Linked DNA regions of Homo sapiens. The protein of the gene in region 2 purifies or fractionates together with the protein of the main gene of each other region. This does not show direct contact. Each region holds a gene or a part of one and is shown on either strand. Other genes may lie near its edges.

Region 1 (3,500 bases), on a different chromosome or scaffold from region 2:
GCTTTACTCCCTTTTTCACCCTATAAAAGCCTTCTCCTTGCATTCCCTCCAAAAAGCCTGCAAACCACAGCTGTCCAATTCCTGAATCGGTATTTGCTCAAATAAATTCTTTTGAGCTTAACCGTGCCTCATTTTACCTTTTGACATCCCAAGACTTTTCTACACTGTCTTATTCTTAACGTAGAAGACAGTTTGGCTGGGGAAGGGCCCAGGATTTGAACTCTCAGCAGCCAATGTCTCTAAACATTTAATGGACCTAAACAGGTATTTTAGCACTAAATCTCTAAATGTAAGTCTCCTTTGGGAAAAATAAAAAATAACAGTAAAAAGTTTCACAGTAATAATACCTACTATATACTGAACTCTTTTTATATACCATCTGTAATGCTAAGCACCTTAGCAGCATCTCATTTAACCCTTACAGCAATCTTAGAACAAAAATAATATTATCCCTCTTTACAGATGAGAAAACAGGCTCAGAGCTCTTTATAGCTAGTGAGTAGCATAACTAGAATTTATACTCTGGTCTATCTAACTCCAGAACCAGTGTTTTAACCCATTAAGCCTCTCTCCACTCCTATGCAACTCCATGCACTAATTTATAATAAACTCTACCCACAAAAGTTCCAGGAGTGCCTATAGTCCTTGATTATTTTCTTCAATTCAATTCAACAGACTTTGAGATCTCAATACTTTCCAAGAGAACTGTGCTAGGCTCTAGGGATACAGAGATGATGAAAACCCAGTAGATACTCACAAGAGGTACATAATAGCATTCATCACATTCTGTATCATGTTATACGACAAACCTTCCCAAGCATCTGCAGAGTTAACAAAATTACTAAAATCCCCTTAAATTCAGTTAAAGAATTTGGATTAGAGGACTAGCATGTAAGTGAACCTATAAAAACAACTATAAATGTTTCACATACTTGGAAAAATAATGACAGGAAAAAAATATCAGTAACATTTCACACATTGTAATGTGGTAATAATAGACATAGTGTTATGAATTGTTACTTGCCAATTCTTGCTTACAGGAAATTTTATAGGTCTACTGTGATTTGCAGTTTCAATAATATATTTGCAAATAGTTTTTACTCCATTTTGGATCATACTAATACTGAAGACAATTATTTTTTTCCTCTCTGGTCCTTCATTCAAATGTATGATGACTTTCTGATTTTATGTCCCAGAAATTACCACTACTTCCCAGGTAGGGGCTGACTTCCATTAGCGTGCAGCTCTGAAGCCACTGTTTCTTGACCTCATCTTCATTTACTTTTCTCAAGGAAGGCTTCTCTATAAAAGCTTCTTCTCTTGCCTGCCATCTACTTCACCTCCTTTTCCTAAAATCAACTCTTACCTCCAATTCCTTGTGTCTTGAATATTCTGTGGCGGAAGAAATTCTCATTCACATATATAGAAACGGGAAGTCCTGAGGTTGCTGAAAGACCTCATCCCACCTTGTTTTAAGCATAATATGATCTTGATACCTGCCAAAGGTCAACTGTTGGTAAAGCCACAAAACCATAGTGCTAAAATCCCCTTTCAAATCCTCATCACGCCTAATCTTAAGCATGTTGGGAGAAAACGTTGCCTTTGCAGAAATGCTTGCTTGATTCTGAAGATTCATGTGGTCTGATGGTGCATCAAGGCAATTAGCATCTTTTTCATTTTTCAAAATTGTTTACTTTAGTGGCACCAATTAGCTAAAAAAGGGTGTGGACTTTAGGGTTCCAGGATTAGTTGTATTATTTCAGTGTAACAAGTAAGTTTTTGGTTATTACTATAAAGTCCAATTAAAATAAATTTGACCATTAAAGGCAGGAAAGTTGAGTTGTGGCAAATTAGAAATCAACTAACATCAAGAATTTCCCACAAGGGATTTCATTGGGAGAATTATTTGTGTCTGGCCTTATGACTGCAGTAAATTCTTTGGAGAAAACAAATGTTTTATTCTTACATTCTTGTAACTCTCACATAACCTACTATATTATTTTCTACAAGATAGACACATGTTTATTAAACCGACATTTAGGTCAGGGAAGCTATCATTATACCTTTCTCTTCGGCAACCTGCAAACTGGGAATCATAAAAATCATAACACATAGGACTCTCAAATCCACTTTCATCTAACAAACCCGACATTTTTAAAAATTATAATACTTCAGTAAAGCACAGTAAGAGAATACATAAAGAATGACAAAGCCACTCTTTTAGATCTCTTGAAGGTGAGATTCAAGCAGAGATCCATGATCTGTCTTAAGTGAAGGAATGAGCCAGGTAACTTTCAGGAGGAAGAAACTTCCAGACAAAGGGAATCCAACTGTCAAGCCCTTTGAGACAAGAGCTCGATTTGATGTGTTCTAGGAATAGCAGGAAGGTCAGCATGGCTGCATGAGCAAGGGGAGTGGCGGGAAATTTGGGAAGCAAATGGGACCAAGGAAAATTGGGTCTCGTAGACCATGGTTAGGACTTTGAATTTTATTTTATGTTTGATGGGAAATGTTAGCAGAGTTTTGACAAAATCTACCTTCAGTTTAGAAAGTTAGTGTTAAGACTTCCCAGTTAATTAGTATGTAAACCATTTTGTTGTATTAAATAGTACTTTATGGGTTTCCAAATAGTAAACGCCTCCCATTCTCATCTCTTTTTCAGTTTTCCAAAAAAGGTATTTCTAATCTTAATAACTTTAAGATTAGGGGAGCTATGTATCAAGAGCTGTTTCTATAACATAAGTAAACATTACAGATTTTTAATTAAAGTAATTATTGTTTAGAATCTAAGGAATCTTTATGGTTAAAAGTAAAAGATCCCTTTTATGCCTTCTTATCTCATCTCAGATAATCTAGATTTCCTTTAAAATTACAAGTGGGATTTCCTTAGTTGATTAAAAAAAAGCCACAATTTTTCTAGCTGAAAATTATTTGTTATTTCAATAGATATGCACACATATATGAAATAAAAGCTTATATTGTAGAAGGCATATACAAATAAAATGACTTATTTTTCCCCTTAGAAAACAAGTTTATTCGGGGATTTTTTTCTCTCCCACTTTCTCCTTGATAATAGTGGAGATGAGCTTTGAACCTGTCTTTCTGAGCTCAACAGCTGGCTTCTTAGCTGGCTTCTTAACAATTATACATTCCTGCTGTGGGCTCTTAGACAAGGAGAACTTCTGGGGCACAAGCTGTTTTTGTCTTGTCCTGTCCTCTTACAAAACTTGAGAAACTCACTTCTCCTCACCACTTTTGGTGCTGATCAGCTCACTTCACATACAAAAGTTGAAACTCCCTAAGTTTTCAATGTTGAATAAAGAAAAATGTGTTTCCCCCTCAACCCCAGAAAATCTCCTGTTTGACTAAATGCGTATGTTTCTTGAGTGTTACAAGCTCCAAGGGTGCTCAAAGGAGGTTGTCCTTTAATATTGCCTTCCTTCTCTGGCAAGACCATACCTTCCTACAATGACCTGGTATCCTTTGCTATCTCTACATTC
Region 2 (3,500 bases):
TGTCTCCCGGGGACCTTCCATAACTTCTGGAAGAGAGCCTCTTCCAGAATTTCCCCGACACACAGGAGCCGGAGCACTCCCTGTGCTAGTAAAACCGGCCCTTCCCTCTGCAGACAGCATTGCCAAAGTGGGGGAGGGGGGCCACAGCCTGGGTTCCCTGAAGCTCAGGGTCCCAGGAGAGTTCAGAGGCTGCTCCTGATGGGGAGAGACACTTACCCCACCCTGTGTGCTGCTAAACCTACAATTGTGAACAGGTTTCTAGATACCAGGTGGAACCATGACTGTATTGACAGTTAATGGGAAATCCAAGCTTCTCTTGCACCCCCATTTTCACCAAACTTCTCCAATCCTGTCCTATTCTGCACCCCACACCTCCTCTCCCCCAAATAATCGATCCCCTGCAGGCTCCAGCACCTTTCTCGCCTTCTCCTGAAGCTGCTCCCTGAAAAGCCCCTTGCCCAGTCTTGTGCCAAAACCCCTGCAGCATCAGCATCCAAGGCAGGCCCATCAGCCATGTCCACAGCCTGCCGGGCATCCCCCACCCCAGCCCTCAATGACCCTCATCCTCCCGCTTCTTCACGCCTTTCCAAGGGCCTTATCCCACCACCTTATCCCACCACCAGCTCCCACTCCTCTCGCTGTAAGGACGACCCCTGGACTTCTCCTTCGTGGGTGTCAGCCTACCATCCTGTGAGAATTCCAGGAACTAGTTCAATGTCTATAAATGAAAACTATGAAGTAGCATAATATGAGGGTGGGCCACACAGAACCACTGACTTCTTTTCTTGCCAAATATAGATGTTTAAAAAAAAGAACACCATTTAGTATGGTGCATACTAGACATTTATGTATTGCATAAAAGGAATGTTCTAACCCCAAAGAATCCAAAGACCATCATCTCAGAATAAAAAAGAGGCATCAAAATGGGTTACTGAAGTGAAATGGATGTTATGGGAAACTCGCTGCAATGCCCTTACAGTCCTCATTTCACCGCAGGCCAGGGAGAGATCGTGGCAGGAGCCCAGCACTGGCCCTCAGATGGCGGCATCCTCTCTCCTGTGTCAGCCCTTCCAAACTTCCCAGCTCCTCTCCACCTGCCCTCTGCCTTCCCCCATCCTGCACCTGCCGGCCTCCTTCAAAATTCCCCAGGAAGCGGACTGGCCTCCCTGCTCCCTCTTCCCACTTTCTTCTCCCTGCACCATACCAGTCTAGCTTGAGGGTTGTTAAGAGTTCTTTTCCTAAATCACAGCTCTGGTAAGTATAGTGAGGGTTAAACATCCTGGACTCTGCCACTCAGTAGCTGGGTGATGCTCAGCAAGTCACTTAACCAGTCTGAGCCTCAGTTTTCTCATCTAGAAAGTGGAGCTGATAACACCACCTGGGAGAATGATGATTTAAGGCAGGATGCATGTAAAGGACTTAGAAGAACCCCTGGTGCTGTGTAAGTGCTCAAGACATGGAGATCACTGTTATCATTCCTGTTATTTTCAAAATCCTTCCTTTGATTCCCAGTGGTCTGCCAGGGGCTGTTCTCCCCTCTTTGCTCACCACTCAAGGCCCTGCCTACCTTTCCAGTCACACCATCTGCTAACCTTATGCCAAGACTCTTCCCCTTGGCCTCTGAGCTCCCGAGGGCGGGGGCTGGCTATATCTGCTGTGGCAGCCCCTGGCACCCAGGTCACACATACTAGGTGGCTCGCTAAAGCTCTGCTGCTCTGAACAAGTACCAGTGAGACCTGTGGCAGCCTCTCAGGGTAGGGATGCCGAGAAACCACCTAGGTGGGTCCAGTCCCCACTGGCATCACGTTTTCTTTCTTTTTCTTTTCTTTTTTCTTTTTTTGAGACGGAATCTCGCTCTGTCACCCAGGCTGGAGTGCAGTGGCGCGATCTCGGCTCACTGCAAGCTCAGCCTCCCGGGTTCATGCCATTCTCCTGCCTCAGCCTCCCAAGTAGCTGGGACTACAGGAGCCTGCCACCACGCCCGGCTAATTTTTTTGTATTTTTAGTAGAGACGGGGTTTCACCGTGTTAGCCAGGATGGTCTCGATCTCCTGACCTCGTGATCCGCCCACCTCGGCCTCCCAAACGTTTTCTTTCTAGATCAGCCCTAACTGATTTGCAAGCAACCCCTCAGACTTTGGGTGAACAGCTAATAATGACAATTCTCCTGGCCTATAATGACACCCTATGCTGCATCATATCTATCTGTTACATGTGCTTCTGAGCCCAGAGATGTTCAGTGACTTGTCTGCAGTCACACAGCATTTATGACCTAGTCAGGACTCTGTACACGCTCCTAGGCCAAACTCTGTGTCCCCAGAATAGAGGTGTAAATGGATAGAAAAACCAAGCTTATTCCAGATTACCAATTTATTGGTTTCCAGTCTCCGAACCCAAAGTCCACAAATCTCCATGCCAAGCAGGACAGTAGGAAGGAGTCATCTCCGACTGCCCAGCACCCTTGGGCCCCACTCTCTCCTCTTCTCCCCTCTCTCCCTCATCAGCCAGGGGCTTGGGGAAGGAAGGCAGAGCCTCATGGCCCCAACATCTCCCTCCCTGTGCTCTGCCTTTTTTCATTTCACAACTATGTCGGCACATCGCCTCCAAAGGCCAAGGAAAAAGAAATAGCACAGCCCAGATGCCGATAGTACTCTCCTGTCTGTCAGGGAGAAGAGAAGAGGGAAATAAAAGCTAACAAGGCTTCCAAAAGCAAAATCCCCAAACCACCTCTCAGGTACCCAGCAGCTGTCAAAGTCAACACAGGAACCTGGCGAAGGGAGGAAAACCCATCCCCAATAAAACCCAGGCAGTTGTGGATCTGAGATTCGGAGACTGAGCACCGCCGCATTTCCAAGGGCGTGATGGGCGTCCTCGGTGGTGCTTCTCTGCTAACATACAGGTGGTCTGTCTAGACCGAGGAACCAAGCCTGTCTTTGCTGAGTATCGAGTCTACTTTTTTTTCTCGTTATTATTATTTGGAGGGCTATTGAGATTCCCTTGCTTCCTTATTTATGCAACTGGGAAATCACAGCACAGAGAGCTGCTTCCAAACTGAAGGCCACATGGGCCAATTTCAGATGGATAATTAAATATTGAACAAACGCTGAAATGCCTCTACTGAATCGGGATGGCTAAAAATAGCCACCCCGCCACTCCTAGAGCGGGCACGCGATACGTGGGCATCTCGGCTGCTCATTCTCAAACCCCTCCTCCCTGCAACTGTCAAGCGCAAGCTTCCAGGGAAACAGAGGAGGCAGAGGGAAATAGACTCCCCGAATACCTACTTAATGGAAAACAAAACTTCAGCTCCCAGCAAGCTCTGAATGTTCCTGACCAGGAAATACTCTCCCTTTCCTGACATTTAACCAAGTGGCCCCGAGAGGGAGGTGCAGGGGAAATATCACAGCCATTGCCTTTCTCTTAAAAATAGTCAAAAGGCTTCATGTCATTTCTAAAGCAAAACACGTATGCAGCCTGGGATGTGAGCGTGTTTGTGTCAAG
Region 3 (2,825 bases), on a different chromosome or scaffold from region 2:
TTTTCATGGCTGGGTGCGGTAGCTCACACCCTGTAATCTCAGCACTTTGGGAGCCCGAGGTGGAAGGATTTCTTGAGCCCAGGAGCTCAAGACCAGCCTGGGCAACATAGGGAGACCCCATCTCATTAAAAAAAAAAAAAAAAAAAAAAAAAAAAGATTTACAAAGGTTTGCAGTGTTTCTGTATTTTACAAAAGGATTCTTTTTGGCTGGGCACAGTGGTTCATGCCCATAAGCCCAGCACTTTGGGAGGCCGAGGTGGGCAGATCACTTGAGCTCAGGAGTTCAAGACCAGCCTGGGCAACATGGTGAAACACTGTGTCTACCAAAAATACAAAAAATTAGCTGGGTGTGGTGGTGCATGCCTGTGGTACCAGCTACTTGGGAGGCTGAGATGGGAGGACCACTTGAGCCTGGGAGGCAGAGGCTGCAGTGAGCCCAACTGTGCCACTGCACTCCAGCCTGGGTGACAGTGAGACACCATCTTAAAAAAAAAAAAAGAATTCTTTTCAATACTCAAATGAATTTTAGCCTGTTTTATCAAATACATTTTTTAAGGAACAGGTCGATACAAAAGCGAGATATGCCTTTATAAGATAAAGAAAAGTTTACAAGAAACAAGCTCAATAGATATAAAAAAATGATTAGAGTATGATGAATATTTTTTTCCTTTCTACTTGCTAGATACTCAAAGTCCATAAATATGTCCAGATGTCCACTGAAATATCTCTCATTTATTCTTACTTGGTTTCTATATGTAAGAATATTTTGATTTAAATAGTTTATATGCTCCTGAAATTTCTGAGAAATTCAAGTCATTATTTTAAATGACTTCACAATAGGAATCCCATCATGTATATTTTCTTTTCCTTTTTGTTTTTGAGATAGGGTCTCATTTTGTTACTCAGGCTGCAGTGCAATGGTGTGGACATGGCTCACTGCAGCCTCAACCTCCTGGGCTAAAGCACTTCTGCCACAGCCTTACAAGTAGCTGATACTACAGGTGTGCACGACGCCTGGCTGATTTTTATATTTTTGTAGAGACAGGGTCTCTACAAAAGACCAGGCTGGTCATGAACTCTTGGCCTCGAGGGATACTTCCACCTTTGCCTCCCCAAATGCTGAGATTACAGGCATGAGCCACTGTGTCTGGCCACATAAATTTTCAGTTCAATTCAACAAACATCTACTGGGTTTCATTAGAGGGACCATCAATCCTTTTATTGACACCATTAACTCCCAACAATCTTATAGGTAAATCTGGGTTTTCTTATCTTAGGTTTACTTATAGTAAGGTACTTGGTAAGAAGATAAAATGTTTCCTATTCTTCATTTATATTGTAAGTCATCTGCATGCTTATCTAGAATTTCAACTTACAATTTGCCTGGTACATTGTTACCCTACTCTGATTCTTAGAGGAGCCCAATAACCATATCCATTCTTCGTGTAAGAAACTGTCACTGTTGAAAAGGGACTCCAAATGTGCATAAAAGATAATCTCAAAACCAATGGTTGCAAAATGAAACATGAACAGTCAAGCTGCCTCTTTAACACAGGCATTTACAATTAGGTTGCCTTCAGTTTGGAAACCTCTGTTTAGTTTCCCTGCAACACAGATTTAATGTCCATCCCTATCTAGTGCTTTAAAACACACACATACAGGCCAGGCATGGTGGCTCATGCTGTAATCCCAGCACTCTGGAAGGCCAAGGCAGGCGGATCACCTGAGGTCAGGAGTTCAAGACCAGACAGGCCAATGTGGCAAAACCCTGTCTCTACTAAAAATACAAAAAAATGAGCTGGGTGTGGTGTACCTGTAGTCCCAGCTAGTTGGGAGGCTGAGGCAGAAGAATCACTTGAACCCAGGAGGCAGAGGTTACAGTGAGCAGAGGTCACGCCACTGCACTCCAGCCTGGGTGACAGAGTGAGACTCTCTCAAGAACAAAAACAAAAACAAAACCACACACATATATAAGGTCAAAAATCCTTTACATTTCTGTTTTCTCAAAGTAATATCTTCCCCCAACCCCTTGGACATTTCTGCTATGGTATTATTGGAAAACCTCAAAATTGTATTTTAGGGTTTCTGGAGTCCATGGAGAATCCCTAACCCATATCATAAAACATAAAATATATAATAAAACATAACCCATATCATAAAACATAAAATTCTCTCTGGATTAATGTTGTTGAACTATATGTGAAAGGTGGGAATTATAAACTGAACCCTCTAGAGTTTACCCTGAAAGGCTAAACACACAGATGACCTGGAGTGGAGGCAGGAACCAACGTACCACATTTTTTGTACAAATTGTTGGCAGTTCTTAAAGGGACAGAAGATTACTGTTTACATTTTGCAGTCTCTTGCTTTTTTAAGACAATTTCATGAATGATAAAAGTGATGTCGGGAAGACATAAACCTGAAACTCCAACCCCCATCCTCGCTCTTTTATTTTGTTTTAAATCATCATATAGTAATTTGAGTTTAAGACTAACTTCAGCCATTCAGAATAATATTGAAAGTATTTCCTAAATCATTTAATAACAGTGACCACAATAAATAAAGATTTGGTTCTAAGATTACAAATAATGAAAAATGTTAACTTTGAGATTCAAAACCCTGTAGCATCTGGAAAAGGTTGTTTATAAAGTATAATCATAACAATAACATTAAGACTTATGTGTGAAATAAAACATTTCTGAAACACTTAGGAATACATGCTTATTCCACTTTTGGGATAACTACTAGTACTTCCTGAAATCTGTTGGGTAGTAATTTCTGTAAAAAGAAAGCAGCAATTCCAGAAGCTGGGTGTCGAGATTATT
Region 4 (3,500 bases), on a different chromosome or scaffold from region 2:
CTCCTTTTCACCCAAGAGTTTAATAAAAAGTTCTTTAATTTTTAAAAAAATTGAGGAACTGCTCTGATGCATAATTTTCAAAACAACTGTGTATTTACATTCGTCAAATTACTTTCTGCAAGTCTGTTAGTACAAGGTGACTTGATGTAACACTTTTTGCTTGACTGATCTTTCCTTCTTGCCATATTATTTAAAGTTCTCCTGCATAAATTTTGTGTTAATTTCAAATTAGCCAGGTGTGGGTGGCGCATGCCTGTAATCTCAGCTACTCAGGAGGCTGAGGCAGGAGAATCACTTGAACCCGGGAGGCGGAGGTTGCGGTGAGCCGAGATCGTGCCATTGCACTCCAGCCTGGGCAACAAGAGTGAAACTCTGTCTCAAAAACCAAAATAAATAAAATTTTGTGTTAATTTCATAATTTTTTCTGACCTGTTTTTATTCCTCTATCCTGAAAGCCCACAAGCCTCCTAGTTTGTTGAAGGAGGGGAAAAAAGCAGATTTTTTTTTGAACACTTAAATTAAAAATTTCTATGAAAGGTGCTGCTGCTGCTGCTACTCCTGCATCTCTTGTAGAATTCTGAAAGGCGTTGAGAAAATAACCTCAGGTTTGCAAAAGTCCTTTCTGCTTCCCCATCCACAGATTCTATCTACTCTTGAGAGGCTGGACAATTTTGCTGTGGGACATTTTTCCCCCCCTCTACGAAAGCTGTCTGGAAGGAGGCCAGTGTGGAAGATATAACTAAACTTGCTATCTTTGTCCTGTTTACAAAAGAACTCTGAATACCCCTCTATTTCTGTATTCTTTCTTTTTACATCTCATAGAGGCCATCCTCATAGTTGATATTTTTAAATTTAGTATTTTTAGTACAGTGTGATTTGTTATGTTTTTACTATTGTTAAAAGGTTATTGAATGAGCTAAATTTTAGAACTCTAAATATGATTTAAAAACTGTTACTTGCTTTAAATTTATTTCCTATTCAAGTTATATAGGCTCATTATGTTTTAAAAAAACAAGAAACAAGTAGAAGTATGTAAAGAGTTAATCCTAGATGAGTCAGTATACTGAAAACAGGAATTAAGTGAAAGTCTGCATACTGAAATATTGAAAATATTTACTTACCATACCGAAATTAACTCTGGTTGATAGTTAAATATGGCTTTCTGGATTTTTTTTTACCTCGTATATACAAACAGGTATACCTTTATTTTACATGAAATTCTATAACTTTATTTTATGAATATCATGGATAGCTTGTCGTGTCATTACTTGTGTATTTAATATCTGCCTTATTCTTTTCTTCTTTTTCTTTTTTGAGGTGGGGTCTTGCTCTGTCACTCAGGCTGGAGTGCAGTGGCATTCAATCACGGCTTACTGAAGCCTTGACCTCCTGGGCTCAAACAATCCTCCTGCCTCAGCTTCCTGAGTAGCCAGGACAACAGGGATGTGCCACCAGGCCAGGTTAATTTTTTGTTTTTAAACGGAGCCTGGCGACAGACTGCAGTGGCGCAATCTTGGCTCACTGCAACCTCCGCCTCCTGGGTTCAAGTGATTCTCCTGCCTCAGTCCTCCCGAGTAGCTGGGACTACAGGCACGCACCACCATGCCCAGCTAATTTTTGTATTTTTAGTAGAGATGGGGTTTCACCATGTTGGCCAGGATGGTCTCAATCTCTTGACCTCTTGATCCATCCACCTTGGCCTCCCAAAGTGCTGGGATTACAGGTGTGAGCCACTGCGCCGGCCACCAGGTTATTAATAAAAATTTTTATTTTTTGTACAGATGGGGGCTGACTATGTTCCCCACCCAGGCTGTATTACATCTTCTGAAGATGCATCTGAGTTGTTAGCTTCCATGGTGAACTGTGGCTTGAGTGGAGATTCTGTAATAAAGACCTTCTATAAGTTAACGAATGCTTCTTTCATCATAAAGACTATGTAGTGCACTACAGCATCAAACTCCTGGGCTTAAGCTATCGTCCACCTCAGCCTCCCAAGTGGCTGGGACCACAGACATGCATCACCACGCCAGGCTAATGCCTTATTCTTTTCAATGTTTCTTTCTTTTTTTTTTTTTAGTATTTCATTGTTACTGGATATACCATCATTAAAAAAAATCGGTCCCTGATTATTTAACATACAGGTAATTTATAATTTTTTTCACTTTTTTTTTTGAAACAGGGTCTTGCTCTGTCGCCCAGGCTGGAGTGCAGTGGCGTAATCTTGGCTCACTGCAGCCTCCAGCTCCCAGGTTCAAGCGATTCTCCTGCCTCAGCCTCCCGAGTAGCTGCACTACAGGCGCACGCCACCATGCCTTGCTAATTTTTGTAATTTTAGTAGAGATGGGTGAATATTGGTCAGGCTGGTCTCGAACTCCTGACCTAAGGTGATCCAACCACCTCGACCTCCCAAAGTTCTGGGATTACAGGCATGAGCCACTGCACCCGGCTGTGAAATACTTTTTTTATTGTGGACAAGAAGAAGGAAATTCTGTCTATGCCAGTAAGACTTTGTGCTCCTTTAAGACAGACTTTCTTTTAAAGTGTTTTTACTTGCAGACCTTAACTGAGTTTCTTACATAGGAATGCTAAATCTTTTTTTTTTTGTACCTTTTTAAAATTGGAGATTAAAGAGAACATTCTTTTTCTTTTCTTTTTTTGGAGACAACGTTTTACTCTGTTGCCCAGGCTGGAGTACAGTGGTGGATCTCAGCTGACTGCAGCCTTGACCTCCCAGGCTCAGGTGATCCTCCCACCCCAGCCTCTGGAGAAGCTTGGGACTACAGGCACATGCCACCATGCCTGGCTAATTTTTTTTTTTTTTTGAGATGAGGTCTCGTTCTTGTCCCCCAGGCTGGAGTGCAATGGCGTGATCTCGGCTTACTGCAACCTCCACCTCCAAGGTTCAAGCGATTCTCCTGCCTCAGCCTCCCGAGTAGCTGGGATTACAGGCGTCTGCCACCATGCCTGGCTAATTTTTGTATTTTTAGTAGAGGTGGGGTTTCACCATGTTGGCCAGGCTGGTCTTGAACTCCTGACCTGAGGTGATCCACCCACCTCAGCTTCCCAAGGTGCTGGGATTACAGACGTGAGCCACTGCACCTGGCCAATGTTTTGTATTTTTTATAGAGATGCGGTTTCAGCATGTTGCTCATGCTGGTCTTGAATTCCTGGGCTCAAGCAGTCCTCTCCTATTGGCCTCCTAAAATGCCGGGATTACAGGTGTGAGCCATTGCTGCCAGCCTGTTCTTACTTTTAAGAGAGGATGATTTGCATAAAGCTAGTCAAATATATTAAGTATTGTTTGCCATGAAAACTGGTTGAGTATCTCTTTCTTTGTGAAAGAAAATTATGCTAAGACACACCAAGATATTTGCCTCCAAAGATTCTTTTGAGTTACATTTGGACCTTGGGAAATATCTGTGATAATTCTTAAGTCTGACCTTGCTTGACAGAACTAAAATTGGTTAACGGTAAATGCGAATGTAGTTAGTTCATCTTGG

What was found. The genes of interacting proteins can lie anywhere in the genome.
Region 1: the proteins of DAB2IP (region 2) and ANKRD22 purify together in Homo sapiens (co-immunoprecipitation; one large-scale study listed by IntAct). This does not show direct contact.
Region 3: the proteins of DAB2IP (region 2) and SLC30A4 purify together in Homo sapiens (co-immunoprecipitation; one large-scale study listed by IntAct). This does not show direct contact.
Region 4: the proteins of DAB2IP (region 2) and ASXL2 purify together in Homo sapiens (affinity purification with mass spectrometry; one large-scale study listed by BioGRID and IntAct). This does not show direct contact.

What each region holds. Positions count from the first base shown.
Region 1 is NC_000010.11:88,841,845-88,845,344, forward strand, and holds part of ANKRD22 (ankyrin repeat domain-containing protein 22), read right to left. Parts: intron 1-3,500.
Region 2 is NC_000009.12:121,658,134-121,661,633, reverse strand, and holds part of DAB2IP (disabled homolog 2-interacting protein), read right to left. Parts: intron 1-3,500. UniProt on the Homo sapiens protein: Functions as a scaffold protein implicated in the regulation of a large spectrum of both general and specialized signaling pathways.
Region 3 is NC_000015.10:45,481,931-45,484,755, forward strand, and holds part of SLC30A4 (probable proton-coupled zinc antiporter SLC30A4), read right to left. Parts: 3' UTR 1-2,825. UniProt on the Homo sapiens protein: Probable proton-coupled zinc ion antiporter mediating zinc import from cytoplasm potentially into the endocytic compartment. Controls zinc deposition in milk.
Region 4 is NC_000002.12:25,868,488-25,871,987, reverse strand, and holds part of ASXL2 (putative Polycomb group protein ASXL2), read left to right. Parts: intron 1-3,500.